Homo sapiens: one gene and its partner. Each later gene encodes a partner of the first gene's protein in a complex. Each region holds a gene or a part of one and is shown on either strand. Other genes may lie near its edges. A codon is read from its position in the direction of its gene.

The links. The genes of interacting proteins can lie anywhere in the genome.
Region 2: the proteins of ADM (region 1) and CALCRL are in contact, whole or in part, in a cryo-EM structure (PDB 6UUS), measured with the Homo sapiens proteins. Residues at the interface, in NP_001115.1 of Homo sapiens: Cys110 (codon at 1,517), Arg111 (codon at 1,514), Phe112 (codon at 1,511), Gly113 (codon at 1,508), Thr114 (codon at 1,505), Cys115 (codon at 1,502), Thr116 (codon at 1,499), Val117 (codon at 1,496), Gln118 (codon at 1,493), Lys119 (codon at 1,490), Leu120 (codon at 1,487), Ala121 (codon at 1,484), His122 (codon at 1,481), Gln123 (codon at 1,478), Ile124 (codon at 1,475), Tyr125 (codon at 1,472), Gln126 (codon at 1,469), Phe127 (codon at 1,466), Thr128 (codon at 1,463), Asp129 (codon at 1,460), Lys130 (codon at 1,457), Asp131 (codon at 1,454), Lys132 (codon at 1,451), Asp133 (codon at 1,448), Asn134 (codon at 1,445), Ala136 (codon at 1,439), Pro137 (codon at 1,436), Lys140 (codon at 1,427), Ser142 (codon at 1,421), Pro143 (codon at 1,418); in NP_001258680.1 of Homo sapiens: Val36, Thr37, Asp70, Gly71, Trp72, Asp90, Tyr91, Phe92, Gln93, Asp94, Phe95, Asp96, Pro97, His114, Ser117, Thr120, Trp121, Thr122, Tyr124, Thr125, Asn128, Val135, Ala138, Leu139, Leu141, Phe142, Thr145, Thr191, Leu195, Ala199.

The regions. Positions count from the first base shown.
Region 1 is NC_000011.10:10,300,287-10,307,927, reverse strand, and holds ADM (pro-adrenomedullin precursor), read right to left. Parts: upstream 2,856-7,641; 5' UTR 2,699-2,855; intron 2,249-2,698; 5' UTR 2,228-2,248; coding exon 2,130-2,227; intron 1,980-2,129; coding exon 1,830-1,979; intron 1,597-1,829; coding exon 1,287-1,596; 3' UTR 531-1,286; downstream 1-530. UniProt on the Homo sapiens protein: Adrenomedullin/ADM and proadrenomedullin N-20 terminal peptide/PAMP are peptide hormones that act as potent hypotensive and vasodilatator agents. Numerous actions have been reported most related to the physiologic control of fluid and electrolyte homeostasis.
Region 2 is NC_000002.12:187,445,253-187,452,801, reverse strand, and holds the start of CALCRL (calcitonin gene-related peptide type 1 receptor precursor), read left to right. Parts: upstream 1-4,549; 5' UTR 4,550-4,763; intron 4,764-7,549. UniProt on the Homo sapiens protein: G protein-coupled receptor which specificity is determined by its interaction with receptor-activity-modifying proteins (RAMPs). Together with RAMP1, form the receptor complex for calcitonin-gene-related peptides CALCA/CGRP1 and CALCB/CGRP2.

The DNA.
Region 1 (7,641 bases):
CGGCCCGCGGGCGCTCAGGCCCGGGCAGACCCGGGGTTACTAGGGGTTACTGGGTTTTCCGGAGGTGTCCCCACGCATTGCTAGGGCGGCTTGGAACTTTAACAACCGCGGCAGGCAGGGGGAACGCCTCTCTTAGAAGGCCTCAGAGACCACCCCAACTCTTCGAAGCTCGCTTTCGCGCCGGGTTCTGTGAGCAACCCTATAAATCTAGGACTCCGTTGCGCAACCCGAGAGTCCAGGCTCGCCAACCCACTAGGGCTCCCCCTACCCACCCCCCGCCGGCCGCCACGCCAGGCGGTGACCTCGGGCGTCTCCGCGAAGCCCTGATTCGCACCCAGGACACGTGTTCTGCGCGCCCCACACAGAGAACAGAGCTCGTGACAGCTCAGCCCGCTCAGAGTAGGGCCAGCACCTGCACGCGCCGCTGTCCCACCTTCCCAAGCCCGGCGGCGGGACCCCAAGGCTCCTGGGCGGGCCGGGACCAGGGCACCCTCCCTTCCTAGACGTGAGAGCCGAGCCGAGAGAATGAATCAGCATTGAGACAGTTTATTGGTTTGCTGTTCGCATATCACCCATTTTATGTAAATAGATTATACAGAGACTCGGTGTTTCCTTCTTCCACACAGGAGGTAATCAGTCTTTCTCTTTCATGCACACAAACACACTCACATTCCACGCGGCGAACAACTTTACACCTCGCTGAGACATTCACGTCTTAAAATAGGGGAGGACAATATAATTGCTTTTAAAATGCCCTTAATACAATATATAACGTACAAAAATATCTCTATATTTGAAGTTACAAAAAAAATCTTGACAGCAACAAACTTAAATATTGATAGTTACCTCTGTATGTACAACACGCATTGCACTTTTCCTCTTTAGGTTTTGGAAAGTTCAAGTAATAGTGAGGCTTGCGCCCTGGTGGGGTGACACGCCGTGAGAAATCAGTTTGTGGGCGAGCACGGCTGTGGCTCAGACCCCTGCTCCGGGGGTCTCAGCATTCATTTCTCAGTTTCTCCTCTCCTTAAGCCTGGCAAACACTCGGATTCTTCTGCACCCCGCCCCCTGGGGCACTTGCACCTGAGCAAGGCTAAGGAAGCGAAGCCCCCAGAAGGAGGGGCCCTTGCAAAGCCAGAGCTCGCCGCCGGACGGTGCCTCCCGGACTCAGGGTCTCCGCAGGGCTGTCAGAGCCCGGTCCCCACACCGCTCGGGAAGTCCTTCGTCCCGGGAGGCACCAGCGGGATGCTTGCGCGACTATTCCTTGTACCATGGGCGCCTAAATCCTAAAGAAAGTGGGGAGCACTTCCACTCGGGGGGGCTGGAGCCCCGTGTGCTTGTGGCTTAGAAGACACCAGAGTCCGACCCGGGCCGGCCTCGGGCAGGGAGCGCCGGCGCCGGCGGCCGTAGCCCTGGGGGCTGATCTTGCTCCTGGGGGCGACGTTGTCCTTGTCCTTATCTGTGAACTGGTAGATCTGGTGTGCCAGCTTCTGCACCGTGCACGTCCCGAAGCGGCAGCCAAAGCTCCGGAGGCCCTGGAAGTTGTTCATGCTCTGGCGGTAGCGCTTGACTCGGATGCGGGCGGCATCCGGACTGCTGCGGGCGGGGGGAGGGGGAAGAAAGGCAACTTGAGACCCCATCAAGCAGAGCTTTGGCCCCAACACCGGGAACGGGAGCCATTCTAGAGCCAGAGGGAGCTGGAAACTGCTCGCGCCATCTGAGCTGCGGTCCAGCCCCGACGATCCCCCGGGCCAGGGGAGTGGAGACAGAGAACTCCTCCCGCACACCTTCCTTCCCTCCCGTCCCTGGACAGCACAGGGCGTAGTTACCTGTCTTCGGGGCTTCGAGAGGCACCCTTCATGTCCTGGGGCCGAATAAGGGTCTGGGCAGGCCCGGCCTTCACGTCAGCGAGCCCGGTGGGGTAGCTGCTGGACATCCGCAGTTCCCTCTTCCCACGACTCAGAGCCCACTTATTCCACCTGGAAAACACAAGCAGACCCGATTCGCGTGCGTTCAGGTGACGCCCAGGCCTGTCCCTGCTCCCATTCACTTCTAGACCTTCGGGACCAACGGTCAGTTCCCCTTGCCTGCCAGGTACCAGCAAGGGGGAAGGCGCTGCCCGGACTCACTTCTTTCGAAACTCCGACGCGACATCCAACCGAGCGGTGTCAGCGCCTAGGAAGGCGAGCGAACCCAGGTACATCAGGGCGACGGAAACCAGCTTCATCCCGGCTGCGAAGCGCAGACCCTGGAAAAGAAGAAAGAGAGTCGAGCGTGAGCACCCGGGCCAGCTGCACCGCCCGGGCGGGGCACGGAGGGCGGGCAGGGGCCCCGGCGAGGCGGGTTTAGCCCGCGCTTTCCCTGGCTCAGACGCTTATCTCCCTCCGCGCAGAGAGGCGCCAGAGGCGTTTGCACGCGCCGGCCGGGTGACAGGCCCCGCAGGGGAGGCCGCTGCACCCCGCCAGGCTCCCAGAGGGTCTCTGCTCAACTTCTTGGAACTTGGCTGACGGAGCAGAGGGGACTGGGTCTCTGGACCTCCAGCTGTGTGCACGAGCTGGGCCCAGGATATGGGGTGTATCTATCTCTCAGAGAACCCTCCAAAGTGGGTTGTTCCCCTCACCCAGCGCTCCCAGTTTAGGGCCTTGGCAAGCACTGCCCCCCACCCCACCTCTTAACCCGCAGGGTCTGCGGCACCTACCTGCTAAGAGAGTGATCTGCCAAGTACTTGAAGGAGAAAGTCTCAGACGTCCCACTGGCAATGGCAAAACTCCGAAGTCCAAGCCCAGCTGCAGTGAGAAGCCCGAAGTGGCAAGGCTTGAGCTGTTCTATCCAGTGTCACCAAGAAACCACTGAGTGGCCAGCTCTGGTTCCTGTGCTTTATAAGCGCACGGGTGGGGGAGCGGCGGGGCGGGGCCTGGGCTGCCCGGTTGCCTTCCCTTTCTTTCCTCAGCCACGCGCGCTCCTGCTCTCGGACGCGCGCATTGCTTCCTTTGGGGCTGGAGTTGGGATGGGGGGAGGGGGGAGCGGGGGAGAGGAGGTCCCTCGTGCCCAGAGGGCTTAGGTATGGGCTCCAGGCGGTTGGTGCAGGAACTGCCACAGCCCTCTTTGGGCACAGGGTTCAGACAGTACGCCGGAGCGAAGGGGCGCCACTACAACCTCTTGAGGTCCTTATCCAGGACCCATGCGGCCCGGAGTGCAAAGCCTCCTGGCGAAGAACAGCAAGAGCCCGCGGAAGGGACAGCGCGGATGGCCCGAGCCCTGGACCTGGGGAGCTGTGGCCTCAAGTGGACCGCGCCCCCCTGCCGGCTTGGCGCCTGACCGGGCCGCGACCCCAGACTCCCGCGGAGGGGCCGGGGCAGGGACGGAGCAAAGCCGAGAGGAGCAGGACTCACTAGTCCCCCAGAGGACCAAGACCCCGGCGTTTCGGGGTGAGCTAGTAAGATTTCACGGTAGGGACAAGGCTCAGAAAAGCTAAATTGAGAATTGGGATTTGGAGGGGGGAATTATCTGAAATTTCAGAATTTTCATTTCTATTTGGAAACATAGGAATAACCAAAATTAGGAGGAAATATACTGTTTCATTTTGCCTCCTTGTAATCCTATTATGCCTTATAAGGTCATAACCTGAGATTGTGCCTGGCTGCCTTCATTAATCCATCGTAAACGTGAGGACTGACTGCCAGGGAGCACACTAACGCTTCACGTATGCTAATCATTTTACAGTTTACCAAGCACGGCCACATCCCAGTCTACTTTGAGCTTCACAGCCACCCTTGAGTCAGGCAAGGAAGGTAACATTCCTTTTCCCATTTCAGCAGGTAGAAAATTCAAGCTCAGAGAGGGGAGGTATCTGCAGAGAGGGGAAGTCACCCTGCAGGTAGGAAGCAGCAGAGTCCCTACTCGGCCCGACACGCTAGCACGGCCGACTGGGGCGCGGCGTGGATTCCTCTAGGCTGGGGTCACCAACTTCTCAAGGGGCAAAGGAGAGTCCTAGCCCCCGCCCAAAGAATTTGTGCCTGTTCATGATGAATCACGCTAGACACGTTTGTCACCCGTTTGTGCTCTTTCATCACAGCTTCTTCTCTTTCTTACTTCTCTCCTGGGGGCCAAACTGGGAAGGAAAGGCTAAGCCACGGGGCTTCCTGCTTCGTGCTTGTGGGTTTCTGGGGTCCTACTAACCACTCCTCTAATCGAATGTCCTGAAGCCCAGCGACTCGACGGAGAGGCCAAAGGTGCGAGACCACTAGCCAAACAGGCTTCTAGTCCTCACCTCCCGGCAATTCGCTGTGTGAAGGTGGGCGAGTCATGTCCCATCTCTCGAGTCCCCATCTTAGAGCCGGTCCCCAGCAGACCTTTAAGCTTCCTTCCTACTCTGCCATATGGCTCTGAGCTCCGGTGCAAAGGCGGCTGGGCAGTGGGTCGCGCGGACCTTGCCCAGAGTGGTCTGTCTGGGCCGCGCACTGCTGGCTTAGCTGCCTTTTCACTCTCGGGACTCAACAGTGGACATTGCACCTGGGGAAGAAATGGCCGCGCGGAAGTTATTTAAGGACTCTTCCTGGAAGGAGTCACCTGAGCGGACCTGAATTCCATCTGAGGACGGAGGACAGATTCCGGGCCCTGACCCTGGCCCTGGTAAGGGGTTGGGACGCGGAGGGTTAGAGGAGTGCAGCGCGGCGCACTGGTCTGGATCCGGCCGCCCGGCTGGGCGCAGGGCAGTCACCGAAGTGGCCTGGCCGGGCGACTAGTCCGTCTGCACCGCAGACAGCAGCTATTACTGAACGCCTGCTCGGTGACCAGGAGCCTCCCCAGCCTAACTATTGTTCTTCTCCCTTGTCTCCCATTTCCTTTTCCTTTCACTTTATCCTCTGCGAGTCAAGCTCTTCGCGCAGATCCAGGACTGGCTATCAGTCGCTCTGAGGATGCGACCTACTTGTCGCCAGCTTCCACTTGGTTCCGCGCCAGGACAGGTTTTACTTTCATTTCTCCCGCGCGCGCCTCCGACTGCTGGGGAGGTCAAGGACAGCTAGGCGTCGGCCCACGGCCAGGGAAGGTCCCGTGGTCTGGACTCGTTCCTTCCAGTCTCCACCAGTCCTGGGGGGTGGGGCGCGGCGGGGGTGTTCGTTCTCCAGAGAACTCTGCGACTGTACCTCGCTGCCACCTCGCTGCCTCCTCGCTGCCCTTTACAAAAGCTCGTGATTCCGTGGGGGAAACTTGAGCTGTGGCTCTGCCAGGAGGATCGCGAAGCAAGTGCCCTTGGTTCAAACTCCTCTTTGAGCTGCAGGCAGCTTCAAAAAGGAAAGCAAGCCCAGGAGTGTAGGGAGACTCAGAGGCTAGGCTCTGCCAGCCTCGGGTGCCTATGCCAGCAACCTCTTGGCTGTGACAAGAATTCCCACCTGAGAGTCTTGGCATGCACTTTATCAGCCTGGTGCACTTTGCCGCTCTGGCACTTAGAGATCTGTCACTTGAGAACCAAGTCAATTCTTTAAGTAAAATCTTGGATTGGCAGCTCAAAGTATTTTCCTAGAAAGCCCCTATCTTGGAGTGAGTGAGTGTGTGCGCGAGCGCGCACCCCGCTTGCATGGGTGAGTAGCAGGGGCTAGAGTGCTCCCCAAAGCTTCGTGGGTTTAAGTCGAAAAAAGATAAGGAGTTTGTTAAATCTGGGCATCTATGTTTTTTCTCGTGAAATCTCGAGTTTGTTTAATTAATCATCGTTAACGACAAAAAAAAATCACTAGAATGCATTTCTGGTTCAGTGGTTCTATGGAGAAGGAAATGCTGCAGTGGGAGTTCTGATCCTGGCAATTTATTAACATAAGTTGCATCCATTCAAGTGGCAGTGATTGTAGATTCACGTTGAGCAAGGACAGTACAAGGAAGGAAGGAAGTGAAGGAAGAAACATCTTTAAATTTCTGGCAAGAAAAGAGAAAAGAAAAAGAAAAAAAAATCCTTGTTAATGAAGATCTACTTTTTTTGTGTGCTCCAGAATTTCAAAAGGTCAGATTACAAATAAACCTCCAAACCACTGTAATAAATGTGTACATCCTGACATTAGGGAGACACACATACACATATGCTAAAGGGTTTTTGCGTAATGGTGTTTCAACTTCTTCACATTCCAATTGAATGATTTTTAGGCCCTATATCCAAGCCTGATTCTTAGTAAAGTTTGGAGTTTAAAAAAATATGTGGTAGTGGTTTCTCAGCTAGCACTGTGGACACAGTTCTTAAAGCCAGAGTGGCCATACTCAGGTCTTTCAGAGAAGCATTGAAAAATAATAAATATCAATGATATTAATAAGAATAACTAAAATGTGAGTAGCTAAGTGCATTGCATAATTATCTCAGATGCCTCCTTTATCAAACAGGAAATTTTATGATGCATTTATTATTAATATAGTTCAAAATGTCTTTTAAGCTGAGGACTTGTTTACAAAGTTCACTTGAAAACAAAGTTCAAGATGCATCCTGAAGTCATAACACAAAGTGATTTAGAGAAAGAACACAATCAGCCTTGTGGATTTGATCACTTACAAGGAGAAGTAAAGCAGGATACAAAGCCCAGGGCACTTTTTTGGGATCTCTGACTTCTCTAAGGACCTAATAAAAATATAGATCCTTTCCAGAAAAATGAACATGTACATAAACCGATTAAAGTATAAAATAGGCATACAGTTCCGGGAGGTTGACCAAGTTTAAAACCCTGACACAGAATAAAAAACACTGTTTCCATATTTTAAATTTCTGTCTGGTTTATAGTGGTAAGGGCAAGGAGGACAGTTAACCTCCCTCTTTAGGGCATAATATTTTCCAGAGCATCAGCATAAAGAAAAGTAATGCGTTTGCTGCCTCATTTTTGTGCTCCTGTACAAAACAGGCAGAGAGTAACAGTCAGTTCTTGTACATGGTAAAGCCAGAAGGCAAACCTCCCTGAAGCTTAAATAAGGTAAATTACTGCAGAACAAATGAAAGAGAAGAGATGGTCCAGTACAGTGGCTCGTGCCTGTAATCCTAGCACTTTGGGAGGCTGAGGCAAGTGGATCTCTTGAGCTCAGGAGTTCAAGACCAGCCTGGCAACATGGCAAAAATCCATCCCTACAAAGAAAAAAAAAAAAAAAGAGAGAGAGAGAAGAGAAAGTAGTAAACCTAAAGAAGCTTGTTACAATAATACCTGTAACAGGACAAAATGAAATTACTTCAAGAGAAATTTGCTACAGAGGGCACAATAAATGGCATTAATGAATGGATGATAAAAGAGATGATTAGGCCATTTGAATCATCCATAGCCAAAGAGAATGGTGTTAATGAAAGCAACCATCATGCTACTTGTCTCCAGATAGGGATCCTGTGATATCAGATTAGAAGCACCTGGAAAGAAGCAATTATTTTATATATGTATATATATTTATATATATTTTTTTCTTTTTATAGAGATGTGGTTTCATCATGTTGCCCACGCTGGTCTTGAACTCCTGATCTCAAGAGATCCACTCGCCTTGGCCTACCAAAGTGCTAGGATTACAGGTATGAGCCACTGTGCTCAGCCAAGAAGCAATTCTGATTTATAAGCCTGAATGAATTGATAGTTTTTTCATTCTTTCAACAAATATTTACTGATTATATATTATATACCCAGCACTGTG
Region 2 (7,549 bases), on another chromosome or scaffold:
CACATTAAATGCATATCCAGAATTAAAAAGGGCATCTTTTTTGATGCTAACTAAAACCATCCTAGAAATAGTAAGAACTATTTTAAACTCTTCTGGAAAGAAGATTTGGGTTTCCCAAATAAATTACTCACACACTCTTAGTATTTATGTGCTACTTGTCATTGCTCTATTGATAAGTATGGCTAAGTTCACCATATACTGAATAATATTTTTTTCTTCAAACCAGAGCATTTTTGAGCCTGAAATTATGAATTGGGACTGCCCCAGAAAACTAGGACATATGATCACTCTATTGAAGGTATTTCCCCTCAGAAAGTTCATTGTGTACTCCCATTTAAAGTAAGCATTTATAATTTTGTTGGATTTAAAAATCCATTTGAATTAGTCCATGACATAGCTCACTAGCCAGTACTAGCACTTTATTCTAGCAATAGCCACCCCTCCAACACTCATGAATATCTGTAAGAAAATACTAAGTTCGCAGGAAGATCTAAATCCATCAGGATATAAGAATTTTTAAAATAGGCAAATGTTTGGCCAATTATTTTTTATGTTACTTGGCTTTCTTGAGAAAATACATTATTAAATACTGAAAGAAACTCTACATATAGGCTATAAAATAGTTTTATTTATCTGTATATTAACCTGGTATACATTTCTGTATATCTGACCTGATATATATACTGTTCATTTCAAACATAGTTTTCTGCACCTTCCAAATTCTTATTCATAGTAACTATTTTTAAAATAATATTGTAATCTTCTTTAAAATGATAGCTATGTGCCCAATTAAAGTGAAAAACGGCCCTTTGGTTTTAGTAATAGATAATAGCATATTCACTCTCATGTCCCAGACATTGTACCCAGATTCTTTTACTAAATGCAATTTATTTTTGTTTTGAAAAGCAACTTGAAAAGTGCTAACAGCAATTGCTAGGTAAAATAATAAAAGGTTGGGTCAACTTATTTCCTTGCTAGAAGTAGTTTTTTAATGTAAAGCTTTTAAACATATAAGCTTCTGATGTAAAGTTTATGTGTTTCTCCTCAAATTATTGGTGCATTTATCATAAGGCAAGTTATATATAATATTGCTGACTGCATAAATTATCACCAAGTATAAGTAATTGCTTTCAGACAATTAAGAACACAGAAGAATTATTAACATAAAATAATAACTTTTAAAACTTCAGAATAATTATTTTAAAAGTCTTTCTTTTGACTTGTTCTTGCACTCTCACTAGGGAAAGTCTGTCCTTAATATATTTCCTGTAAAAGTGTTCTGCTTTATTTTGTTTGTTCTTGTGGCAAGAATTATGCTCCAAGGCAGTATCCATACAAATTCAAAATAAGTGGTCAGTTTGGTCAGTAGAAAATTAAATTTGTCAAACCACATTTTGGTCTGGTTTAACTAACATATTCAATATAAACAGTAGCCCAGAAACTTGGAGTTAGCCTACTCCTAATTTTGAGTCAACTTGCATTTGACATAGTAACTAGTATCCCCTATTGGAAGAAAAGGTCGCTTGTGAGCCTTATGTGTGAGCACAAATAAAAGCACAAATCCTGCATGTAGGATGCTAAAATGAAAATGTGTGACTGTCCATCATTACATGTATATATTTCTACACTTATACACCACTCCTCACTTCTACAGAAAACCTTATTGCAGTGCTCTGCATCATTACCTCTAGATTCTATGTTAGCAGCATCAGTTGCTAATTTCACAGAATTTGGCCCTTGACTTCTCATGTGCTAGTCAATCTGTTCATTAAAGGACTAGATAGCAGGGAACATTCTATTTTTACTTATCTCACTAAAACACAGTTAGCACATTACCTAGCTCAAAATACAAATTTGGTCACTACTAATTAAATTATTGCAAGTGGCTTTAATGTCTTCTGAAGAAAGATTATAATATATAAATCCATATAATGCCACGTTGGCTCAAAATTGCTTCATTGATTATTGAAATGTTTTCATTTAGCTCTGCTACAGTTTTCCAAACATTTGCCTTCATGTTTCAGTAGGTATTAGAGAAGTTTTTATGATCTATCTTATCACTTGCTCCTACATAACTTAGAATACCCTGAATGCCTTCCTGGAAGTCCTTGTACCATTTATTTTTTCTGAAGTTTATAAAATGGCAGCTCTTGAGGATTACTAGGATGCAATTTTCCTGTTATGTCTAAATAAGAATTAAAGATGATATTAATAAAATTTATCAAGGAGTCTTCATGGACTACAGCCATGGGCCCATGTGTACGTCAACTTAAATATAAATGATACAACTTCTACTAGACACCCCATAAAGTATAGCACTTGATAGAGAGTAGAAGAGAAAGAGCATTGGATTAAGGGTCTTATGACATGAGCTCAAAACATGAATTTTTTTCCTTCAGTAGACCTTACTAGTATTGGGCAAATGAAATCAATGAATCTCACCAGGCGCAGGGGCTCATGTCTGTAATCCCAGCACTTTGGGAGACCAAGGTGGGCGGGTCACCTTAGGTCAGGAGTTTCAGACCAGTCTGGCCAACATAGTGAAACCCTGTCTCTACAAAAAAATACAAAATGTTAGCTGGGTGTGGTGGCGGGCGCCTGTAATCCCAGCTACTTGGGAGGTTGAGGCAGGAGAATTGCTTGAACCCGGGAGGTGGAGGTTGCAGTGAGCTGAGATTGCGTCATTGCACTCCAGCCTGTGCAACAAGAGCAAAAACTCCATCAAGAAAGAAAGAAGGAAGGAAGGAAGGAAGGAAAGAAAGAAAAATGAATCTTTGGAAAGACGAAAATATCAATGCTTTTATAAACATATTGGGAAAAGTTTTAGTTTTCCATGATTTAATTAAATTCAAAAACTATATATTAATCTCTTTATAGGATTCATATATTACACTTAGCATGGAAGATGAGAAGACATGACCCATTATTACTTTCATATTAAATCTAGTATTTGTTTTTCTCTGAATTTCAAGATGGGAACATGAAGCCTAAAAAGCTTTGTCAAGATCACACCAGACAGTATCAGAACCGGTTCACCAGTGTAACTCAGTTTCTTACAAGTCTTTTCTATTAACCATAATTATAGAGATGAAAGTATATCTATTTTTTATATGTCTGTATTTTGTAATCAATATTGATCTCACTGGTCTTAAAATCAAAGATTGTATAAACATTTTCTTCCACTAATTCAGACAATAAAAATGTCAACATGAGCACCCTGCTTTAAAAACATGATATTCCTGAATTTATTTTGCCTTTACCTCCTTTGTCTGCCTACAAGGTGTATGGCACCTCATTTTATCCTGGAATTGCACTAACAATTTACTAAGAGTTGAATGATCCTCACCGTATCTTATCTATTTCAAAATGTTATGAAATTTGTCGATTCAAAGCCTTAGACATAAAATCTATCTCTTCTAGTTTATAGATGAGAAAATTTATGCCCTGATAAATTAAGTGACTTTTAGTGCTGTTTAGGTTATAGGGATTATAATTATTGCTTCATATCGAACATTTACCAAATTATAAAAATGATAAAAGCATTTTAAATTTACATTTTCCCCTGATCATATCCAATGATGTATTAAACATATTCAGGAAAAACTATGCTTTGAGATGAAATTTTGTCTAAGAAATAAAGTATCCTTTGTATTTATATTATTTTATAATATTATGTTTACAACATCTATATTTTCTTTAAGATTATATTGACTTACAAATATTGTGGTATAAATTATTTTATATTATAAATAACATAATTATACCAAATATTTTTAAATGTGTGCAATAATTTTAAAATTATGAATTATTCAAAAGGCTATTTTGTCAAATATATATACTTATATATTATAAAAGAAACACTCTATACACACACATACACAACCTGAATTTATAACACATACACTCATGTTCTTATGAAGAAGGTAAAGGAAAAAATAAAAGATTTAAAAACTGCAGGATAAAGTTTCTTGATCTAATTAACTGATTAGGAACTGCACTTAGGAACTGATGGAGGAACAGCACCCAATTAGCAGAGCTCCAAATTAAGAAGAGCCAAATCACAAAACCAGTTATGATGAATACAGTTAATTTTTTTTTCTGTGTTGTGCTATGAACACAGATTTGTTAGATTTTTTTTCCTGGATACTTTGTAAGCTATAATTCAACACACACACACACACACACACACACACACACACACACACGCCTAACTCCTTTGATTCTTTGAGCAGAATACTATATTCAGATTTCCTTCAAATCACAAGTAGCTTGTTTGGCAAGTTCTAACAGAACTCAGTCAAGGTGAAAGCCAGCCAGCTTTTTACTGGTAACAATGTATTCACACAGCCTATGATCTCTCTCTGTTCAGGCTGCTTCTTGCTCTTGTCTCACAATAAGAAAGGAGTGCTGCTTTCCTGGGGTATGCTATTTGAGAAAGAAAGTAACCTAACACTAACTGCAGGCGGGGTCAGAGTGATGTAACAGGAAGCTCTGATGTTTCCCTTCTGCTGCTGATCACTTACAATCTGACAACACTTACAATCTACTCAGAACAACCTCTCTCTCTCCAGCAGAGAGTGTCACCTCCTGCTTTAGGACCATCAAGCTCTGCTAACTGAATCTCATCCTAATTGCAGGATCACATTGCAAAGCTTTCACTCTTTCCCACCTTGCTTGTGGGTAAATCTCTTCTGCGGAATCTCAGAAAGTAAAGTTCCATCCTGAGAATATTTCACAAAGAATTTCCTTAAGAGCTGGACTGGGTAAGTGCACATTCAAAATAAATATATTTATTCTAAGTAGTATTCTCATATAGTTTGGCAATGTTTCTATTATAGAATTTAGTAGATAGCACTGAAATAATGTTGAAACATAGTCTCACTTATTTCACATGCTAGAGAAAATACAGCCTACTACCCCAACATGAATACAAAATCTAATACTACTAGATAATATTGTTTACCATGGTATTCTAGAAAATAAATTTAGCAAGTATTAAAAATCTAAATGGATTAAAAGACATATTTCTGAACAAATACCTTAATCACAGAACAATGTCTTTTAAAATTAGCTCTAATATTAGCTAAGCTTGAATCTTGACAACTGGAAAACATTTCTCCCCCCGGAAGGGTCTTTAAACTTTCCATGTTATCAGCTGTAAGAAAGAGGTGAAAGAATAACTACTTAATGGGTCTCGGAGTCTCACTTACTCTGTGGTTGATCATAATGCAGAGTTTTGAAAAGTAATCACTTTGTATTTATTACATTTGCTTTTATTTGCCTTTCACCTTTATTTACACATATATCTGTAACTACTGAACTAATTTTTGTGTTCATTGTTGCCAGATGTGTTTAAATCTCTCTTCTGCTAACCCTGAACTGTTTGCTCTTTATTTGGATCATGGTGTCGGCTACAAAGAAAAAAAAAAACCTAGAGTTTAGGAAATGTAGATTTTTAAAACAATTCTTAATTTTGAAATCTTTAAGAGAATACTTCAACTTGACTGGTTCCCCTCTGCAAGCTTTTGGAGGGGGGTGTGATACCACGATATCTGTGGATAAAGAAACGTGACAGCTTTCCCAAAGAAGTATATTAGACGATTAAACAAAGAAATTAAAGTATTTATTAAAAAAGAATTTCCAGGATGGAACTTACTGAAATGTTGGATAAAACATCTGTTAATGCTCATTCCGATAGTACAGACTGTCCTGAACAATTTAAGAAACTAATGTCTGCTTAATAAATTGTTTGTGTAGATATATCACAAATTTGTTGCTGGAGAAAGTTTGATGTCAAATTTTAAATGATGTTGATAGATATGATTTTTAAGTTATATATTTTCTTACCTAAATGCAATTATACTTTCCAAGATGTCCTGCATTGGAAGCATCCTGTACTTAATCACTTATATCTGGCACATTAATAATAGACTACAAACATCCTGAGTAACTCCTCAGTAATTTACAACTCAATTTTTCCACAAATTCCTCAATATAATGAAAATTTAAATTAATTCTTAGATTTGTGATTCTTTAAGAGTATCATGGCTGATTTCTCTCTCTTTTCAATCTTCAGTTGTACTGAGTTCCCTGACACATGTGTAGAAATGGGAAAAGTGTTTTTAGAATGTGACTTTAGCCATTATATAAATGGGGGAGAAAGTGGAAACAACACATTTACTAACCCAATGACGTGGGTTAGTAACAAAAATTAAAACAACATTATTTTTAATTCAGATTATTTTCTTAGGAGGTATTATATTATGATCATATTTTATAATGAGAAACTCTCCAAACTTCCTTAATTTTTGTTTAATTGCTAGTCCCAAACCCATAATTTTCTTGTATAATTTGATTAAATTTTTATGAGTTTACTAACAGTATGGTTTATAATCTTTGTTTTCCAAAAATACTTTTGAAAAACACTAGGCGATGAACATTGAAGGTCATTAGCCAAAGGAAATATTTGAGGACATAACTGGAAGTTTGAAATAAAAATTCATATTATTGTATTCAAAATGTGCTTTCTTTAATGATAAGAAAATATCAGAATATCAATGCATGCTTTTAGCCATAAAGAAATGAATTTACTTTGCTAGAAGATGTTTCCTTGTAGCATCATAAAATCAATGCATTGAGCCTACAGTCAATGCTAAATATGTAAAATGAAACATAGAATTGAAATAGTATGTGAATAATGTGAGCTGAAATATGTTTTACCTGAAATATTCTATTTCTTAAAGAGATAATGTTTTTGATTATTGTTACAAGATTTTTTTTCTATCTTACATACCAAAGCATTATACTAAAAGTTAAAATATGTAGATTTTTATAATATATGAAACTGTTCATTCACTTTGAAAAATTGGAATAACAAAAACATTGTTTAAAATAATACTGGGTCTGTAATTTTAAAAATTATTTTAAATGAATGGGCAAGATTCATATGGTTTTCTCACTGGTGACTCCGAACATGTAATGAATTTTAAATGAAGACAATACTTAGCATATTTGTAAGAATATTTATGTTCACCTGCACATATTATACTATTTTTTCATGCATAACAGAAATAAAATTTCATAAAAAATTGAAAATAATATAAAGGTAAAATGATTACCTTGTTTGCTTTACAGATTAATGTGGACAAAGTATTTGATAAACACATAAACACTAACTGAATTTCAGTTAATAGCATCATTATATATTTCTAACTAGATCATATTTGGAAACATTGTAAAAATATTTTGCTACCAATTTTATCTACATGGCAAAAGTTTGATAGTAACTTAATTTTAAAAGATTGTTCTAGATCTTTATAGAAAAAATATAATAATCTTTAAAGGATCAAAAACTTATTCACTAAACAAAATTTATTTCATACTCTATATATGACTTTTAATACAGCTTTATCAAATAATTCTGGTTTTGGAGATATAATGATTACAGTATCGACTTTTCACAATACAAATATGTTCAAGAAATAGTATTTAAAATCTTTTGCTTTATTGCGTATCTTATGCTTGGCATTCAGAGAAGCTATTAAACCAT